Regions from separate parts of the Homo sapiens genome. Here region 2 is linked to region 1. Evidence: fine-mapped expression QTL. A gene starts in region 1. The other region holds a variant in brackets. All regions are shown on one strand. Distances are between the middles of the regions. Region 1 holds the start of DCAF7 (DDB1 and CUL4 associated factor 7). Region 2 holds the start of CCDC47 (coiled-coil domain containing 47).

Region 1 (10,224 bases):
TCACCTCTACATCCCCTGGAAGTACAAGGACTCATCTGTGGTCCCTGCTTCTCCTCCCTCCCTGAACACCTTGGCTCTGTTCCCAAGCAGCTGGACTTCCAGAGACATGGCTCAGATCCTGGATTTGCAGGGAGTTGGGGCCACTGAACTCCAAGATAAAGACACCATGAGGGGACTGAAGGTGGGCAAGGTGAGAGTTAAGGATCTTGGGGAGGTGGCCGGGTGCAGTGGCTCGCCTGTAATCCCAGCACTTTGGGAGGCCGAGGCGGGCGGATCAGACCATCCTGGCTAACACGGTGAAACCCCACCTCTACTAAAATTAAAAAAGAAAAAAAATAGCCGGGCGTGGTGGCAGGCGCCTGTAATCCCAGCTACTGGGGAGGCTGAGGCAGGAGAATGGCATGAACCCGGGAGGTGGAGGTTGCAGGGAGCCGAGGCCGCACCACTGCACTCCAGCCTGGGTGACAGAGTGAGACTCCAACTCAAAAAAAAAAAAAAAAAAGATCTTGGGGAGGCAGACAGCCCCCCAGATGGGCCTCTCCTAAAGTAGCTACAAACTGCTGATCCAGGTGACCCAGGATGGCGTGGGTGAAGAAGCTCACGACTTTTCCCAGCCTCCTCCAGGGCTCCATTTAAACAGCAAGCCTGGTGCAGGGTGGGAGAGTCTCAGGTGTGGAGGCAGCTTACAGGATTGAGGGGGCAGTGAAGAAAGAGGTTTCTGATCTACATGAGTACCTTGCTCTGAGCCTCCCAGCTCAGAACCCTCCAGCACCTCATGGCTCAGCACCAAGGCCCGGGGTTGGTCAGAACTCTTACCATGAGCCTCTGACCTGGCTGGAGATGGAGGTATGTTCTGTGGCAGACATGTCAGGACAGTCCTCCAGCCCTCTGCTCCTGATGGTTCTGTGACATTGGGTCTCTTGAGGGCAGTGGAGTGTCACACAGCTAATAAAGTACACATTTCATGTTGGACTGGGTGTGTAACTTATCTGAAGGTCATTACGTCTTTGACTGTGCTGTGGCTTTCTCCAAACCCTTCTTGTAAGGAGCTGCAGACTTACCCTCCACCATATCCAGTGTGTTGGGGACCTGAAGGTGGTTCTGCTGGGCCCAGAGGCTCCTGGAGCCTGGGGCTGTTAGGCCGAGGTGAAGGGAAGCAGAGGCACTGGCTTGGTGGCCCTAGGGGATCATGACAACAGCCAACACTTCGGTAGCACTCGCCCCGTACCAGGCACTGTGCTGACAGCTCTGCAGATACTTGTTCATCTAATCCTCAAAACAACCCCAACGGGTTGGTATTATTATCCCCATTTTACAGATGTGGGATCAGTAGCAGAGAGACTAAGACACCCAAACATGAGGGGGATTTCTGAGGTGCAGGTACTGTTCTGTTTCCTGATCTAGGTGCTGGTTACAGGTGTTCAGGTTGCGAAAGAGTGTGCTTCTGTGTGTAAATTATACCTCAGTTAAAAAGAAAATAAAAATAAAAAAAGAGGCCAGGTGTAGTGGCTCATGCCTGTAATCCCAGGGCTTTGGGAGGAGGATGAGGCAGGAGGACTGCTTGAGGCCAGGAGTCCAAGGTTACAGTAAGCCGTGATTGCATCACTGAACTCACACCCTGGGCAAGGGAATAAGACCCTGTCTCAAAATGAAAATTTTAAAAATCATCCCCGTGCCCAACACGGGGCATTTGTATTGACCCATTTCTACCCAAATAGCAGCGATTTGAGAGCCACCACCATCTATTTTAAAAACACAAGAAACCCTTCTTTAACATCGTTCTTTTTTCTTTTCTCATAATTCCCACTTATTCCTCCCATAGTTTTATCCTACATGTAATTTATTGGTATGCTTCAAAGCCTAATATTGATCACCCTATCATATGTTTGCAACACAAATATGTATACAGGCTGGGTGCAGTGGCTCACTCATGCCTGTAATCCCAACACTTTGGGAGGCTGAGGCTGGAAGATTGCTTGAGCCAGGAATTCAAGACCAGCCTGGGCAGCATAGCTCAACCTGGTCTCTACAAAACAATTTTTTTTTAATTAGCCAAGCATTGTGATGCGCACCTGTAGTCCCAGGTACTACAGGGCTTGCTGGGAGGCTTGGGTGGGAGAGTCACTTGAACCTAAGAGGTCAAGACTGCAGTAAGCCATGTTCATGCAACTGTACTCCAGCCCGGGTAACAGAGCAAGACTCGGTCTCTTAAAAAAAAAAAAAAAAGTGGCTGGGCGCAGTGGCTCACACCTGTAATCCCAGCACTTTGGGAGGCTGAGGTGGGCAGATCACGAGGTCAGGAGATCAAGACCATCCTGGCTAACAGGGTGAAACCCCATCTCTACTAAAAATACAAAAAAAATAGCCAGGCGTGGTGGCAGGTGCCTGTAGTCCCAGCTACTCGGGAGGCTGAGGCAGGAGAATGGCGTGAACCCAGGAGGTGGAGCTTGTAGTGAGCCAAGATCGTGCCACTGCACTCCAGCGTGGGCAACAGAGCAAGACTCCGTTTCAAAAAAAAAGTAGGTCGGTCATGGGGTGGCTCATGCCTATAATCCCAGCATTTTGGGAGGCTGAGGTGGGAGGACCAGTTGAACCCAGCCTGGGCAACATAGCAAGATCTTGTCTCTACAAAAAATAAAGGAGGCAGGAGGATTGCTTGAGCCCGGGAGGTCAAGGCTGCAATAAGCACTGTTTGCCCCACTGCACCACCACCTGGATAACAGAGCAAGACCCTGCCTCAAAACGAATGTGTATAAATTAATTGACATTTTAAAATTAATTTTTGTAACCTTAATAAGGCTTTAAGGGTTACATCTATTAGTAGTACAGTTGTTCAAAACAACATAAATATATATTCAATTTTCTAATAAAAACTAAAATTTTATTGGAAATATACGTCATAAAAGAGAAAATTTCCTCCCCCCGTTAGTTCCTATATCTGTGGATAAATATCATTATTTTTTATTAGAATAAGACAAGGTACCGCGAATTTTGTACGTCTTTTTCTTTCCTTTTTAAATTTGTTTTTAAACTTTCCTCCTTACAGGGGATTTCCTTTAGCTGGGCATGGTGGCGGGCGCCTGTAATCCCAGCTACTCAGGAGGCTGAAGCAAGAGAATCACTTGAACCCTAAAGGCAGAGGTTGCAGTGAGCCGAGATAGTGCCACTGCACTACAGCCCGGGCGACAGAGTGAGACTCCATCTCAAAAATAAAATAAAATTAAAAAAAAAAGAGGATTTCTTGGCCAGATGCGGTGGCTCACGCCTGTAATCCCAACACTTTGGGAGGCCGAGGCTGGAAGATCATTTGAGGTCAGGAGTTCGACACCAGAATGGCCAACATGGTGAAACCCCATCTCTACTAAAAATACAAAAATTAGCTGGCTGTGGTGGTGCACCCCTGTAATCTCAGCTACTCGGGAGGCTGAAGCAGGAGAATCACTTGAACCTGGGAGGTGGAAAAATCATTTATCATTAAAAATTATATTTAGTGCCCAGAATGGTGGCTCAAGCCTGTAATCCCAGTACTTTAGGATGCTGATGTGGGAGGATCGCTTGAGCCCAGGAGTTCGAGATCAGCCTGGGCAACATGGAGAGATCTCATCTCTACAAATAATAATTTAAAAATAGCTAGGTGTGGTGGCAAATGTCTGTGGTTCCAGCTACTCCAGAGGCTAAAGTGGGGGAATCGTTTGAACCTAGGCAGTCCAGGCTACAGTGAGCCCTTATCACACCAGTGCACTCCAGCCTGGGTGACAGGGCAAGACCCTGTCTTTAAAAAAAAAAAAAAAAAGTATTTAATGTTATCATCCAACAATTCAATACAAACCTCCTTCAATTTTGATGAAAGCTGAGAATTGGAAATAATTTATATAAAGGTGTCATTTGGTCTCTGGCCCTTCCCCTTTTCCAACTCACAGGCACAGATACCTTTGGGGCTGGATTAGCATTTGCGTTGGGATCCACGGCGGGAAGGGTACAGGATGGGAACTGACAAAAACAGAGCCAAGCTGGTCGGGTCGGTGCCTACCCCAGAATTCGGGGACATTTCTAGATCCTGCAGGAAAGCGCGGGAGGGCCTGACTCAAGCTGGCCTGGCCCTGAGCGCATCTGCGCGCCCGAAGCCTGTCCCTGAGGCACGGAGAGAGCAGCTTTCGGGTTAAAAGGGCCCTGGGAAGAGATGGGGCGGGAAGGTGGTACCCGTTGGGCGCAGGCCAGGCTGCCAGGCCGCAGGGCTCTGTCCCGCGAAAGTCAGTAGGTCTTCCACTAAGGCAGAATTGTACTTTTACTCGACAGCGTGGAGAGGCCGCTCAGAACAGCAGCAGCGGAGGGGAAGTCAGCGCAGGTCACAGACGGTTTCACTCTCAGAGACTTGGCCTAGAACTTGGAGGCCCGCTGCTACAGCACGCTCGCCTCCAGGCCACCCACGCCCCCACCACCCGCACTGAGCCGTTATCTGCCTGACTGACATCTTGGCCAACCAATGACCTTTGGGGCTGCCAAAGCGCCTGCCTCCGAGAGTTGGGCGGGGCGAGTAGTTGCAATGACAAACATTTAACCCAATAGCGAGGAGATTTCAGACGCTACGGCCGCAATAACCAATGACAAGAAAGAATCCTTTCGAAAGGACGTGTCAGGCAACCAACGGCCGGTGCCGCTGCGGGGGTCCGGCGGCTTCCGTTCCGAGAGGGCGGGGCGGCGTCCCAAAACGGAAGGTGGTTGTCGTCCGTTCCCAAGCTGGTTTGAAACTAGGGGTCGGGCTCGGCCGTCGTCGTTGTTTGTCGCCGCATCCCCGCTTCCGGGTTAGGCCGTTCCTGCCCGCCCCCTCCTCTCCTCCCTTCGGACCCATAGATCTCAGGCTCGGCTCCCCGCCCGCCGCAGCCCACTGTTGACCCGGCCCGTACTGCGGCCCCGTGGCCACCATGTCCCTGCACGGCAAACGGAAGGAGATCTACAAGTATGAAGCGCCCTGGACAGTCTACGCGATGAACTGGAGTGTGCGGCCCGATAAGCGCTTTCGCTTGGCGCTGGGCAGCTTCGTGGAGGAGTACAACAACAAGGTGGGCCGGGCAGGGGCTCGGAACCCAGCTGGCGGGGAGCGGGCCCCGGGAGCGCCCTTTCCGGGCCGGAGCCCAGGCCTCAGAACCCTCTTGCGGACTCGCCCTAGGGCCACGGAGCGGTTCCTCTGTCTGGCCCTGTGCTGAAGGTTTCGTACTCGTTGTCTGTCTCCTTTAATCCAGGCAGCATTCTTGTGTAGTCGGCAGTGTAGTGGGGAAACTGAGGCACGGTTTTGTGACTTGCCTGGGTCAGGCAGCTATTTCGGGGTGGAAACAGGTCTTAAAACCGGGTTTACGCCCCAAAGATACTCCATTTATTCATCCCGTGCTCTCCACTCCTGCCGCATTGCTTTCGTTGGTGGGCGGGGAAGGGAAGAGAGAGTGATAGCTGTGAAGGAAAATGCAGGCGCTTCTATTGGTGGTCGTGCACTCCTGGCCACACTAGATTTCTATTAAGACGATCTATTGTACAAGCTTCCCCGCCCCCTACTCCCACCCCCCCCGGGTACTCATGGATCCTAGCCCTTCTGCCAGAATTACTGTTGCTCTTGCTTCCTGATATCCATTCTCTCTAAAGCAATCTCTTTGGAAATCTTGGCCTGTGGCATGATCCCGCCGTTGTTTCCTGAACACAGAAGGATGACAGGGCCTTATCTCTTGGCTTGTTTCGTGCTAGTACAGTTGTGTGACCTTTAGTAGTAAGTCTTGCTGGACATACATCAATTTGAGAATCCTTTATAGAAGCACGGTGTAGTAGGGGAGCTTTTAAACTGGCATTGCAACAAACTCATTTTTGAAAGTTGAATAAGTCAGTTGGAAGAATTTTCTTTCTTCCTTTTACTCAAAGTTGTGAATGATAGCGATCAGAGCAACTGAAAGCTGTGGCTAGTGATATTTAAAGCCACTACTCCTGCTTTATGCCATGAACATCAGATTTAAGAAGAGTAAAACTGGCCGGGCGCGGTGGCTCACGCCTGTAATCCCAGGACTTTGGGAGGCCGAGGCGGGCGGATTACCTGAGCTCAGGAGTTCGCGACCAGCCTGGGTAACACGGTGAAACCCCGTCTCTACTAAAATACAAAAAAAAAAAAAAAAAAAAAAAAAAAAAAAAAAAAAAAAGCCGGGCGTAGCTTAGTGCGCCTGTAGTCCCAGCTACTCGGAAGTCTGAGGCTGGAGAATTGCTTGAACCTGGGAGGCGGAGGTTGCAGTGAGCCGAGATGGCGCCACTGCACTCCAGCCTGGGCGACAGAGTGAGACTCTGTCTCAGAAAAAAAAAGAAGAATAAAACTGTTCAGTGACAAGGCTGATGCAGGGGGGAAGAAACCAGGTGGTCCTGTCTGGTTATTGACTAGCTGTGAGATGTTGCACAGGCCTGTTTTATTATCTGTGACCCACAGTTTGTACGGAAGGGGTTCTGGTTTACATGTGAGGGTCTTGTAAAAAAGAAATTTGAACATTTCACAGTTTGTTTACAGTTTTTCAGGAGCACATTTGTTTCTCTAGAGTAGGTCCTCTTTGGAGTCCACTTTGAGAAGCTGATGAAAGCTATGGATTCTCATTGTCCAGACATTACACATACATGAACAATTTACAAACAAATCCAAGGAATATGCACTGATCTTTAAGTCCACCCATTGCCCGGGCGAGATAGAGCTTTCTTTCCTCTGTTGCTTCTTTCTTCCTTATGGCCCATAGTGGACAGCAGAACTGGAAATGGGATTCACGATTCTGATGTGGACACCGTGTTAATAAAATTAAGACCACTAGAACTATTGTTTAAAGATACACGTGGAAAATAAAAAAGTATGTCTTTCAAAGGGCTTAAGTCTTTTTACACAAATTAATGTTTTTTCTTGTAAGTTTTTCCAGGGTCGTTGGGTAAGCAATAGTTACTCCTATTCCTCAGAGAGGAGAAACTGAGCCACAGTTAGGCTGCTTGGTAGGATCAGTGGAGTAGTCAAACTGCTGTTGCAGGAACTCTACCCCAGTTTGTCCTTTCATTTAGCAACTATCTGGAGCTTCCTCTTTGTGACAGGCACACAGGTAGCATGGCTTAGCAGTGAAATGCAAACTAATAACCCCACTATCAACAGCATTAGCAGTTAACTATATCTTAACTCACATGATGTAGGCAATGCGCTGTCTTAAAATCATTTTTGTGCCTCCACCTATCAGTAGATCAGGGTTCTTAAATTCTGTGTGCCATGGTCATCTGATACCAATAGACCCCTTCTCATAGTTATGTTTTCAAATGCATAAAACACATAGAATTACAAAAGAAACCACTTATGTTGCACTACAGATATAAACAACATGTTTTTTAAAGTGGTGATGTAGTCATATGTACTTTTAATAAATTAACTTATTGATTTACACCATCCACTGTAATTATTAATGTAATTTTGAAATGGTGACAAGGGTAAACAGCATTTCAAGATGCTTAACAACTGTGCTGTGGTGGGAAAAAAAAATTCTCTTGCTGGCAAAGTCACAGACAGTCATACCACTGTGAGCACCTGACCCCATTTGTAATTGAAGGAAACAAAAAAATTTAGCTAGAGGTTAATGGAAATATGGGGATAATTTTCCAATTCAAGTTCACAGACCCCAAGTTAAGAAACCCTGCGAGAGAGAAGTATGTGTAGTGGTTGGTGAGCAGCAAATCCTGCCTTAAAGTGATTCTCAGGCTAAGTTTGTGAGAAACCCTGCCAAAGAGGTGGTCGACTTCATAATTTGGAGGAACTTTAGAATTATTGGTTGGAATTTTTAGACCATTGGTTCCTGCTTGCCATGGATAGTGGTCACCAGCAGAGGATAAAGTAAAATGGACACAGCAAATTAACACTGATGAAAAAGGCTAGAAGTGGTCATCTTTTTAGTGTGGAGACATTCACTAAGAAAACATGGTTGTAATTTTTAAAAATTTGCATTAGCATAATCATGTTTTCCTAACGTAAAATTGTACCTAGTTGATCCATAGAATTAAGTCTATCAACAGTTTAAGAAATTGACTTCCAGGTGTTCCTTCATGTGAATAAATTTGGGAATTGTTGCAGAGTAAAGAAACAGATTCTATCAACTACACTTGGAATAAAAAGCCCCATTATAGGGCTGGGCGTGGTGGCTCACACCTGTAATCTTAGCACTTTGGGAGGCTGAGATGGGAGAATCGCTTGAGCCCGGGAGTTTGATACCAACCTGGGCAACATGGAGAAACCCTGACTCTACAAAAACATTAAAAAATTAGCCAGGTATGGTGGCATCTGCCTGTAGTACCAGCTACTTGGGAAGCTGAGGTAGGAGGATGCTTTAAGCTCAGGAGGCAGAGGTTATAGTGAGCCAAGATCACGCCACTGCACTCCAGCCTGGGCGACAGAGCCAGACCCTGTCTCAAAAAACAGCCTCATTATTGGTTATTATGTTTCTACCTTCTTTTGTTGTGGTCTCTTGAGGGATACAGCAAGATTGGTGTTGGAGCAACAGGTTCTCTAAATTTTAGTGTGTGAGAATCCTGAGGGAGCTGCACATTCCTGGGCTCCACCCCTGAAGTTAACAGACTTGGAGATAGGTGACAGACACACTAGTGGTTGAGTGGTCCAGATGGCACTCTCAGAACATGGCCCTGGAGCTGCCTTGGCATCTGTTGGCCAGAGGCGAGAATGTGATCTTTTTGTGTCTGCATGCTCCTAAACATTGGTTCTGCCCTTCCATCCAAGTTCACCCATGAAAAAAGCTCTGTGATTAGCCTGGGTTATCTAAGTCCTGCCACTTCCCAGTTTTGTATTGCCTTGGGCAAGTTATCCTCTGTGTCTCAGTTTCATCATCTGTAAAATTAGGGCAATAAATAATAACATCTACCTTGTTCAAAGATTAAATGAGTTAATATATGTAATGGACTTAGGAACGCCACCCGGTGTGGAATAAGCCATATAGAGATGTTAGCTGTTATTTAATTATTATCATTACTGTACCTGTAATTGAAATATAACCAAAGAGAATTATATGGCTGTTTAGTAAATTTACTTTTGTATTTTCCAGAAAGGATTCAGGAATAAGAGGTCAGAAAGGTAGCTGAAAAGGTCATTATTTCATTCTCTGCCTTTTAAAGACTCTGGGGGGAAAATTCCCTTATCTCTTTCAACCCAACTCATTTTGTAGTCTAGCAGATTCTTATAGTCAGACTCCAAGTAGTGTAATTTTCTAGTTTAAATCCATTTTCTCTTGTTCTACCTGGCTTACCTACGTAAGTCAGATATAAGAATTTGGCATTTCTCCTGTGTTTTGACAATATGTTTGGTCTTTAGGCCCAGGTGTTATTTCCCCTCTTTTATTGGGAAAAGCTGGGTAGCAGTTCCTGGGCTTCTGTTCCACTTAAGTGCATGTTTCAGGGTTGGTTTTGATAAAGATGGCAGTGTGATTGGGATTTAGTTTGCCCCAGTATTTAACTGACTACTTGTGCTCTAAGATTTGGCATCCAGAGAGTATTTTTGAGGTTCTGAGGAGAGACTGTAGGTATATCTGATGCTTTTTGGAGAATCCTAGTAGTGAGTCTGGGTGGCATGACCACCTTGTACTTGAAACACTGGGATGGGTACTCACCTCACCAGCCTGTGTTGATTCCTCTGAGGTTTTTAATACAATTACTTTATATGTTTGATGCATAATTATTTCGACTCCGGTATTTAATTTTTCATCTTGGTATTTGCGGTAGCCCTTCAGGATTATCATTCATTTGCTCATTAATTTAGCCGGTCTGTATTGAACACATACTCATGTGTTTTAGGCACAATGTGTTTTGGTACACATCAGTACTTTTGATAGATATTTAGAATGTCGCAGTGTTCCACGAGTCCCTGTCAAGACTGTCAGCAGGGGAATTTAAGACATAAAACTCTTCTGGTTTTAACTTCCTCCTTTTTCTAGACAGTGAGAGGACTCATTCCCTGTTGTGACCACTGGATAAAAGTGATAATGCTTTAAAAAAAAATGCTACTTTATTGCTTTTTGTCCTAATCTTGTTCACATAGACTTATTGGAGATGCTGTCACTTGAACAAGGAGTGAATCTATGCTCTGTAGGTAGCCTGGCTTGCCTAAGGACTTGCTGCCAAAGCTCTCGCTGCCAGAGCTCTCTGGTCAGCCTCTGAGCCACGAGCCAAAGGTGTGCT
Region 2 (10,224 bases), 230 kb after region 1:
GTTCTCCACATACAAAAAAGGGATACCATTTGCTACTTGCCTCTTAGGGCTGCAGTGGGTATTACGGGAGATATGTACCAAGGGTTTTTTTTTTTTTTTTTTTTTGAGACGGAGTCTGACTCTGTCACCCAGGCTGGAGTGCAGTGGCACGATCTCGGCTCACTGCAAGCTCCGCCTCCCGGGTTCACGCCATTCTTCTGCCTCAGCCTCCCAAGTAGCTGGGACTACAGGCGCTCGCCACCACGCAGGGCTAATTTTTTGTATTTTTAGTAGAGACGGGGTTTCACTGTGTTAGCCAGGATGGTCTCGATCTCCTGACCTCGTGATCCACCCGTCTCGGCCTCCCAAAGTGCTGGGATTACAGACGTGGGCCACCGCGCCCAGCCTCCTTTTCAAATCCTACTCTTAAAACTTTTTTTTCATATAGAAGCAACTAAAAGTTAACACCGGAACAGTCAACTCGATTAACAGCCTGCCAAAAGATCCGATCATTTCAAATTGAATTTCCAATTAGAATATTCACACCATAGAAACACTTCTGAGATAACTCAGCACTATAATGGAGATCCTTCAAGGTTATTTAGGTTACAATCATCCAAGCCATTTTTACCTTGGTTTTCCCTCTTAGAAGTCTCCGCTGCACCTGTCAGTTCTCAAATGCACAAGTCCTTGCCAGACCACCCAGCCTCTATGACTCCTGAAGCAAGCAACACAGGACCAAGGAAAATTCACACAAGCGCTAACAAGTCTGGTTTGATTATTTTCTGCAAGCTCATCCAATAGTTCCTCAGCGACTGAGTCTAGACTTGAGGAAAGAGGACTGAGTGAGGCCATCATTCCTTGTTGTCATTTTAGATTAGGTCTTCCTGACAACGGCCAAAACGAGTATTCTGGAAATCATGCAGACTTTCCTCTGTCTCTTTATATGTGTTGGATACAAACACGTTTCATTTTAGAAACCTCCAGAAGAGACTGGCCACAGAGGTTTTTGCTTCTATTAAACCCCTTTGCCTAGTTTCTCCCCACCCAAGAGAATCAATACATCCTAATGTCATCCTCCGGCACACACTGTACATTTCCTCTAACTCTGCCCTTTTGGCTATCATTTGCTCACAGCTCCGTGGGAAAGTTCCCCCAAACCATTACAATTATCTCAACCGGACCGGGCTACAGGCCAAGCAACTCGGAGTCACCGCTCGGCCTGGCCCGGCCACGCCGACGAGCGCGTCCTGGCCCGCTCCTTACCTGTGGCCGAAGCCGAAACCCGGCCCAGCGCCCTGCGTCCGACACCCCTGCCCGGCCTGCCTCTCGGCCTGGCCGCCGCCTCCGCGATCGCAGCGGTTTTACTGCCCCGGATGCCTCTAGGACGCAGCCAGAACCGTAGCTCAGTCACGCCGCGCCTCTCTTCACGTAGCCTCCGCCGTCCGTTACGTAGAATGCGAGCGGCTCGTCAGCGCCTGCGCGCAGCCTGCGGGGCGGGACGCAACCCCGGGGAAAGCGCGAGACCTCCCTCTCTCCCGCCCGGCTGAGGCGAGGTGGGGCTTTTGGGAAAATTACATAATCCCCGCCCCTGGGCCGGAACTGCCCTCGCCTATCCCAATCCTCCTACCTAGGATTCCGTCAAGTTGACGTCACACGGAACCGGTGCTCCGGAAGCTAAAGGTGGCCATGCTGTGTGGGACCACGTGGCCAGAGGCAAGAGTGTCGCTCTAGTAGTATATGCAACAGTTTAAACTATAGGCATGTTCATGTAAATATGGTTTCTGTCCAACCCGTTTTCTCTTGGGATTTTTGGCTAGCCCCTTGACGCCACTTTTTCTTCATTCGCAGACCCACTTTCTAGATGGGTCATGAACACTGTCCACCCAACTGCAGTTTCCCGTCAGAGTATCTGAGGAGCCTGTGAGGCGTTCTGGAGCTTTAAGGTCAGGCGCCTTCCGGGAGCCGTAGCCCCGGCCCCGCCCTTCTGCCCGCGCGTTCCTCACTGCGCATGTCGCGTTTTTGTTCCCCTCCCCCCTTCAGCAACGGGCCGTGAGGCGGTGGCGGTGGTGGCGGTGGCGGCGGCGGTGGTGGTGGTGGCGGCGGCGGCGGCGAAGGGGGCGGAGAGGAAGGAGCGCGGCGGGACCGGGCCGGGACAGCGCGTACTTTGGGCTCCGGGATTCGCTCCGCGCCCGCGGTTGTAGCAGCTGCCGCTGCAGCCATAGCAGCAGGTTTGTGCGTGGGGTTTCTGGACGCAAGGCCGCCAGTCCTTGGGGGCACTGGAGGCAACTGCTGGGCCTAGCGAGGGCGGAGGAACCGCGGCCTCGCTTAACAAAGAGTCGGCAGAGCCTCGGGGCACCGGCGGCCGGGGTGCCGGGAAGGGGTGGGAGTGGGGGCTGAGGCCTCTAGGGTTCCTTCCTAGCCGCGTCGCCCTCCCACAGCTCCCGCTTCCCTCACAAGTCTTACCGAGGCCCAGTTGGCGGCTTTCCGGAGGCGGCGCCCCCTCGCCTAGGAAAAGGATTTGCAGGGTGCCCGGCTCCAGGGCAGGAATAGCGCGGGGAGAATTCTGACCCAAGGAGGCAGCGCTTGGGAGATGCAGGCCTCCGAATTTGGGGTCCTGAGAGGCAAAAGCTGCCAAATGAGAGGAGTGAAAAGATATAGGCGATGATCTTTGTGCAGCGTTGAGTAGGTCGATTATTAGCATCACTGTAGTCACACAAACTTTTTTGCGGCCTACTTGAGAGCGTATCTGATGTGAATAAATAATTTACATGGAATTGCAAACATATGCATCAAAAACAGGAGAAGCTGTCGAGAGTTTTGGGGAATTACATTCTCATCACTGAGAATTTCCCTCTTGCCCCCACTCCTATAGGCAGTTATCCAATTTCTTGTGGCTTCCCTGTGTTTTCTTTTTGTCAATGATGTTTCTATGTCTGTCCTCTCTCGTATACACACCCAGGACTTCCTCAAGCGCAGGGACTATGTCTTAAGGCGCTTTGCAGAGCCAAGCTCATTTCTGGCACATAAGAGGTGAGCAATGAGTGTTTCGTACAAAAATTAATGTTTATATTTTGACAGCTGGGAAAAGAAAATATATCTTCCTGTACCTGGAAGAAGCATTGTGTAGCCTAATGTGCAATTCGTTCATTCAAGGGGTATTTTTATTGGTGCCTATTCTCTAGCGCCGTTCTAGGTGATAGGGATAGGTGTTAGACCCCTGCCTTTGGGGAACTTAACTTTCTAGTAGCGGGAGGAGAGGCAAACAGATACATATATTATACTGAATGTTAGAAGATGATCAGTATCTTAGGGAAAAGAAAGCTGGAAAGGGGGTTGGGGAGGTGGTGGTGTTGGAATTTGCAATAAAGTGGTCAGGGAAGTCCATACAGACAAGCTGATATTTAAGCGGACTAGAAGGTGGAGTGAGAGCCTACGTTTATCTGGGGAAAGGAACGTTCCAAGCTAGAGAATAACAAACATAAAAGCCTTGAGGAGGACAAAGCTGGCCCGTTAAGAGTGTGAAGACCAACGCGTTTGGAGCACTGTGAGCTGAGGGAGTATTAGGAGATAAGGTCAGGGAAGAATTGGGGGAAGGGAGTGAGCGGAACAACCAAAGCCTTTTAGGCTGTTACTTAGGAAGGATCTGAGGGTTTCGATCAGAGGAATGATAATATCTGATTTATATTGTAACAATTTAATATAAGAGAGGAGTGCAGTTATTTAAATTTGTTTTGTTACATTGATAGTCATATAATCAGCTCTTAGTTGCTTTAAGCTGACAGGAGAAGGGATGCTTCTAAAATAACCATAACCTAGCATTTACTTGTATTTGGTTTAGAAGAATGTGATTACGTTCTTGAGTTTTTATTTAGATTCTCATCAAAGAACTGACCTGTATATAGTGTGTGAGGTACTCTCAAAGTATATGTAGAGTAGATGCTAATCACTGTCACTAGAACTCTTCCTTCCACCTCCAAAAATACAAGTGATAAAGTAATGTGGCTTATATAATCAGTTGTTTTTAGTCCACTATATTTAAAGTCATTTAGATCATATCTTATTTTCCGCCATTGCCGAAAACACAAACTAGCTAAATTGTCTTCCTTTATAAGTGTGTTCCACATTTATTCTCACTTCCTAGCCTTTGCTAGTTCAGTCTTTCTCCCTGGAATGTCTTCGTCTGCACGTCTCTACCCAGCTTTCATCTTTCTGTGCCTAGCCTGGCTTCTGACTCTGTTATGACACTTGCCCTTGCTTGTTAGCTCATGGTGATCTCTGACATCTTCAGTGTTCTTGTGGCGCTTATGTATGAAATACCTGAGTTGAAAGAAGTCTGATAGTCTCAATTTACCGATGAAGAAATTGGTTCTTCAGAAATAATGTAATAATGAAAAACACGATGGTAGCTGACATATTGAACAAGTACATTTTTGTGTATGAACTTAATTTTTCACGCCAACTCTTGAGATAGGTGATAGTCTCATCTTTTTTTTTTTTTTTTGAGATGGTGTCTGGCTGTGTTGCCCAGGCTGGTCTTGAACTCCTGAGCTCAAGTAATCCGCCTGCCTCAGCCTCCCAGAGTGCTGGGATTACAGGCGTGAGCCACCACACACAGCCTCTTACCATTTTTTATAGATGAGGAAACTGAACCCAGAGAAGCTAAATAACTTCCCTGAGGTTCATATCAAGTTAGTAGCAAAGATAGTTTACACATAGCCTGTGCTACTTTACTATTCTGTTAAGATTTCCTAGGAAACCACCGTGTTTTATTTATTTTTTAGAGACTGTCTTGCTGTGTTGCCCAGGTTGGAGTGCAGTGGTCCAGTCAGCTCATTGTAACCTGGAACTCCTGGGTTCAAGCAATCCTCTTGCCTCAGCCTCCTGAGCAGCTAGGACTACAGGCGTGTGCCACCATG[C/T]CTGGCTAATTTTTTAAATTTTTTTGTAAAGACAGGGTTTTATTGTGTTGCCCAGGCTGGTCTCAAACTCGTGGCCTTAAGTGATCCTCCCACCTTGGCCTCCCAAAGGGCGAGGATTACAGGTGTGAGCCACCTTGCCCAGCCAGCCATAGGATTTAGTGCCTAGAACCATACCAAATAGGACTTGATGCCATCTTGACTGTTTCTCTTCAGCCTAGTTGTAGATCTCCTTTAGTCTTTTACATATTGAATAAATGAGTATCTAATATTGAAAACATGCTATAAGAGAAAAGTGAATAAGCCTGTTTCTTCAGCCATGAATCCTATAATACGGAGTTGGACTGGAAAGGGAGTTTGAGGAAGGAGATGCCATTTCTTTTTCTTTCTTTTTTTTTTTTTTTGAGACGGAGTCTCACTCTGTCGCCCAGGCTGGAGTGCAGTGGCGCGATCTTGGCTCACTGCAAGCTCCGTCTCCCGGGTTCAAGTGATTCTCCTGCCTCAGCCTCCGGAGTAGCTGGGACTACAGGTGCCCACCACCACGCCTGGCTAATTTTTTTGTATCTTTAATAGAGATGGGGTTTCAGCATGTTAGCCAGGATTGTCTCGATCTCCTGACTTCGTGATCCACCCGTCTCGGCCTCCCAAAGTGCTGAGATTACAGGCGTGAGCCACCGTGCCCAGCCAGGAGATGCCATTTCTTTGGGGATATCATATTCATGTCTTTAGGAGTTGGTATTTGAGATATGCTTTGAAGGATAGGACTTTGGTAGGTACTCACAGTTTATAGGAAAGAGATTTGATGTGAAGGGGATCCAGTTAGAGGGAAGAGGATTCACTAGAGTGCTTGTTTTCCTGGAAAACTGAGTACGTGTGGAGAGACCCTGGGAAATATGAATGGTAAAGTAGTTTGATGCCACAATGGAGGGTCTCATTCCAGCATGATTAACTGTGGAGAGCTATGGAATTGAGGAGAGTGACATAATCAGAAATGTGTGTTCTGGAAGAACCTGGAAAGGGTTTTCGATAAGCATCTGAATACTGACCTCCCTTCTGTGAGACTTTTTCTGGTTCCACGGTATTAACACACACTATGCTACTCTACCAAAGGAGGTAAAACTTGCTTTTCTCTTTTCACTGTGTGTCTCACTATTACTTCATCATTTTATGCTTTACTAAACAGAATCACTTCTCATAGACTATGGAAGATTTGCTGGTTTTAGATGAAGCATCTGGATGTACATCCACATTACTTTTCCAATAAAACAGACATTCTTGGGACAGTAGTCAGGGGAGGATTACCTGTCAAATGTCATTCATCTCAGAGAGGCCTTGCCTGACTTAAGTCTGCAATAGCTTGCCTCTTACCCTCTTGCTTGCTTTTCATAGCACTTTTGCTACCTGGAATTACATGATTTAGTTTTTCTTTCTCCTGGGCCAGACTGTGAACTCTGAGTATGGCTGCATCTGATTCCATTACTGTATCCTTAGCACCTTAGAGCAGTTACTGGCACAAAATAGGCACTCAGTATATTTTGACTTAGTGATCACTCTAGTAGTGCTGTGAGAGCTTGATAATAAAGTTTTTTTTTTTTTTAAGACAGCATCTCGCTCTGTTATCCAGGCTGGAGTGCAGTGGCACGATCTCGGCTCACTGCAGCCTCCGTGTCCTGGGTTCAAGAGATTCTCCTGCCTCAGCCTCCTAAGTAGCTGGAACTATGGGTGCGCGCCATCACGCCTGGCTAATTTTTGTATTTTTAGTAGAGATGGGGTTTCACCATGTTGGCCAGGATGGTCTTGATCTCCTGACCTTGTGATCCGTCCACCTCGGCCTCCCAATAATCAGAAATTTTTTTTTAGGAAATAATTGCAATAGTGGAGGTGGAGATGGAAAGGCGGGTATACGTGAGGGATGTCCCTCATAGTACTGGGCACATAACAAAATCATCAGTGGTTATTGGTCAGTATAAAACAATGGATGTTATTACTAAGAACCACTTAGGGTTGTTCTTTTTTAAACAAATACTCATTAAACTTTGTTTATGGCTCTATTCAGCTAATTCTTTTCAAATTAGGTATTTCAAAAGGGTTCTTTTTTAAATTTTTATTTTTTGGCACCCCAGCAGGAAATGAAGAAATCTTTTTTAAGAGAAAAAATACAAAAATGCAGTTGAATTTCCCCAAGTGTGTTTTTTTTGTTTGTTTTGGTTTTGTTTTTTTGAGACGCAGTCTCACTCTGTCACCCAGGCTGGAGTGCATTGGCATGATCTCGGCCCACTGCAACCTCCGACTCCTGGGTTCAGGCCATCCTCCCACCTCAACCTCCCGAGTAGCTGGGGCTACAGGTGCACACCACCACACCTGGGTAATTTTTGTATTTTTTGTAGAAATCAGGTCTTTCATTGTTGTCCAGGCTGACCTCTAACTCCTGAGCTCGAGCCATCCTCCTGCCTTGGCTTCCCAAAGTGCTGGGACTGCAGTTGTGAGCCACTGTGCCCACCTCATTTTGTTTTCTTCTTTTGGTACTATCACCACAATCTAGCCACAGGACACTTTTCATCTTGTAAAACTGAAATTCTGTACCCATTAAACAATAACACCCTATTCTCCCCTCCTCGCAGCCCCTGGCAACCACTCTTCTACTCTGTGTCTCTGAGTTTGACTATTCTAGGTATCTCTTTTTTTTTTCTTTTTGTTTTCTTTGTAGAGATGGGGTCTCGCTGTGTTGCCCAGGCTGGTCTCAAACTCCTGGCCTCAAGCCATCCTCCTGCTTCCCAGAGTACTGGGAATATAGGCGTAAGCCACTGCATCTGCCTCTTTTATTTTTTTAGTAACCAAATAGAAATTTGGGTGGCTATCTTTTGCTTCTTCTGTCAGCTATACTCCCACAAATCTCTGTGATTGTCAAGGTTCAGTAACCATATACACTACATGGTTTAATAGTAGGAAAAACTGCCGGGCACGGTGGCTCACGCCTGTAATCCCAGCACTTTGGGAGGCCAAGGCAGGCAGATCACCGGCGGTCGGGAGTTTGAGACCAGCCTGACCAACATGGAGAAACCCCATCTCTCCTAAAAATACAAAATTAGCCAGGCGTGGTGGCACATGCCTGTAATTCCAGCTACTTGGGAGGCTGAGGCAGGAGAATCACTTCAACCTGGGAGGCGGAGGTTGTGGTGAGCTGAGATTGCGCCATTGCACTCCAGCCTGGGCAACAAGAGCGAAACTGTCTCAAAAAAACAAAAAAAAAAAAAAGTAGGAAAAACTGTTGTCAAGAGACTTAAGTAATGATCCATTGAGGATGATCTGGCTTAGATTTAATCAGGAAGGGTGGTTAGCTAGATAACAAGGTTTGTAGTAATAAAATAGAGTTTTCATAAATACTGGGATGAATTTTGGAGAGCCTGAATACATTACATTTATTCATACAGCAAAATTTTTTGAGTACTATGCAGACACCAAGGATATAGTGCTGGACAAATTGAGTCAAGTCTATGCCCTCATAGAGCTAACATTCTACTCAGGGTATATAGAAAGCACAGTTCCTTGGCCTTCCTAGAGTCAGTAATTGAGGGACAATGAGCTGTGTGTTCTAGATGAGCTAGGGAAAGGATCGCTTTTCCAACTTGCTAAGTCTTGAGAGCCAGTAAGCAACCCTCACCTGCCCAAGGTCTCACTGCCTGCCTGTTTGTGGCAGGAGTTGATTTGCTGCTTTTGTAATATGAACCTTTTGATTATTTAATAGGGCTGATTCATAGTCATGTTTGTTCTTTTCACTCCTTCCCTCTAGCTTTGGGGGAAGAGTGAGTTACTCCTGTTGTTAAAAGTTTTGATTGTGTCTGGTCTTCTCTGGAAATCCTATGACTTTTTTCTGTCATTTTGCATCTTCAGTTTTTCAGACTTTACTGGTTTTTCCCCTTTAGCATATAAACATGCCTATGTTTCTTTAAAAAATAAAATTTCTGTAGGTAATGCTTCACTTTCTCCTTCCTATCATTGATAAACAGCCTACAAAGTACTCTTGACTCCTCTTGACCTAGTCTTCATCTTCTACTACTTACTTGCCAGGTACTCCTCAACCCTGTCCCTACTGCTCCATTGAAACTGCTTTCACTGATGACTCCTGGTTGCCTATACAACAGAAGAATTTTAGTTCTTTTTGTTTTGTTTTTTTGAGACAGAGTCTCGCACTCTCGCCCAGGCTGGAGTGTAGTAGCCGGATCTTGGCTCACCGCAAGCTCTACCTCCCAGGTTCATGCCTTTCTCCTGCCTCAGCCTCCTGAGTAGCCGGAACTACAGGTGCCCGCCACCACGTCCGGCTAATTTTTTGTATTTTTAGTAGAGATGGGGTTTCACCGTGTTAGCCAGGATGGTCTTGATCTCCTGACCTTGTGATCCGCCTGCCTTGGCCTCCCAAAGTGCTGGGATTACAGGCGTGAGCCACCGTGCCTGGCACATTTTAGTTCTTAACTTACCTAACTTCTCTTTAGTTTTCTGCCTATAGAGCTTCTTTCTCCTCACCCGTGTTCCTCCTTGTCTCCCCTTCCTTCTTTCCCCCTCTTCTTTCTTTCCCTTCCCCAATCCCTGTTCCATCTGAAGTTTCCATGTAAGCTTCTCTTTTTCTGCCCATTCCTAAATAGTGATATATGTTAAGAATTGTCTTACTGGGCCGGATGTGGTGGCTCACGCCTGTAATCCTAGCACTTTGGGAGGCCGAGGCAGGTGGATCACGAGGCCAGGAGATCGAGACCATCCTGGCTAACATGGTGAAACCCCGTCTCTACTAAAAATACAAAAAATTAGCCGGGCCTGGTGGCAGGTGCCTGTAGTCCCAGCTACTGGGGAGGCTGAGGCAGGAGAATGGTGTGAACCCGGGAGGCAGAGCTTGCAGTGAGCCGAGATTGTGCCACTGCACTCCAGCCTGGGCGACAGAGTGAGACTCCGTCTCAAAAAATAAAAATAAAAAAAGAATTGTCTTACCAGCTGGGCGCAGTGGATCACGAGGTCAGGAGTTTGAGACCAGCCTGGCCAACATGGTGAAACCTGTCTCTACTAAAAATACAAAAATTAGCTGGGCACGGTGGTGCGTGCTTGTAATCCCAGCTACTCGGGAGGCTGAGGCAGGAGAATTGCTTGAACTCAGGAGGCGGAGGTTGCAGTGAGCCAAGATCATGCCATTGCCCTCCAGCTCTGGGCGACAGAGCAAGACTCCGTCTTGGGGAGAAAAGAAAGAATTGTCTTACTTCTTTTCTCACTCTGCATGGTCTCTCTGCTAGCTTATTTACATCAGTAACCTCAAATGCAAATGGCTTACATCAAATCTATAGCT

The links. PIP is the estimated chance that this variant, and not a neighbour inherited with it, causes the effect.
Region 2: its variant is fine-mapped to the expression of DCAF7 in whole blood (TOPMed, PIP 0.94).

Annotation. Positions count from the first base shown.
Region 1 is chr17:63,545,756-63,555,979 of GRCh38, forward strand. It overlaps DCAF7 (DDB1 and CUL4 associated factor 7), which reads left to right and starts at 4,722. Exons shown (of 7, transcript NM_005828.5): 1 at 4,722-5,060. The coding sequence starts at 4,923. KCNH6 (potassium voltage-gated channel subfamily H member 6) reads left to right here. Exons shown (of 13, transcript NM_001278919.2): 13 at 1-972. The coding sequence ends at 147. RefSeq lists enhancers at 3,652-4,636, 3,936-4,325, 4,766-4,845 and silencers at 4,996-5,045, 5,066-5,215.
Region 2 is chr17:63,772,167-63,782,390 of GRCh38, forward strand. It overlaps CCDC47 (coiled-coil domain containing 47), which reads right to left and starts at 1,431. Exons shown (of 13, transcript NM_020198.3): 1 at 1,246-1,431. It overlaps DDX42 (DEAD-box helicase 42), which reads left to right and starts at 2,004. Exons shown (of 18, transcript NM_203499.3): 1 at 2,004-2,210. RefSeq lists enhancers at 1,306-1,890, 1,603-1,912 and a silencer at 2,043-2,332. The variant C/T (reference allele first, on the strand shown) is at 4,899.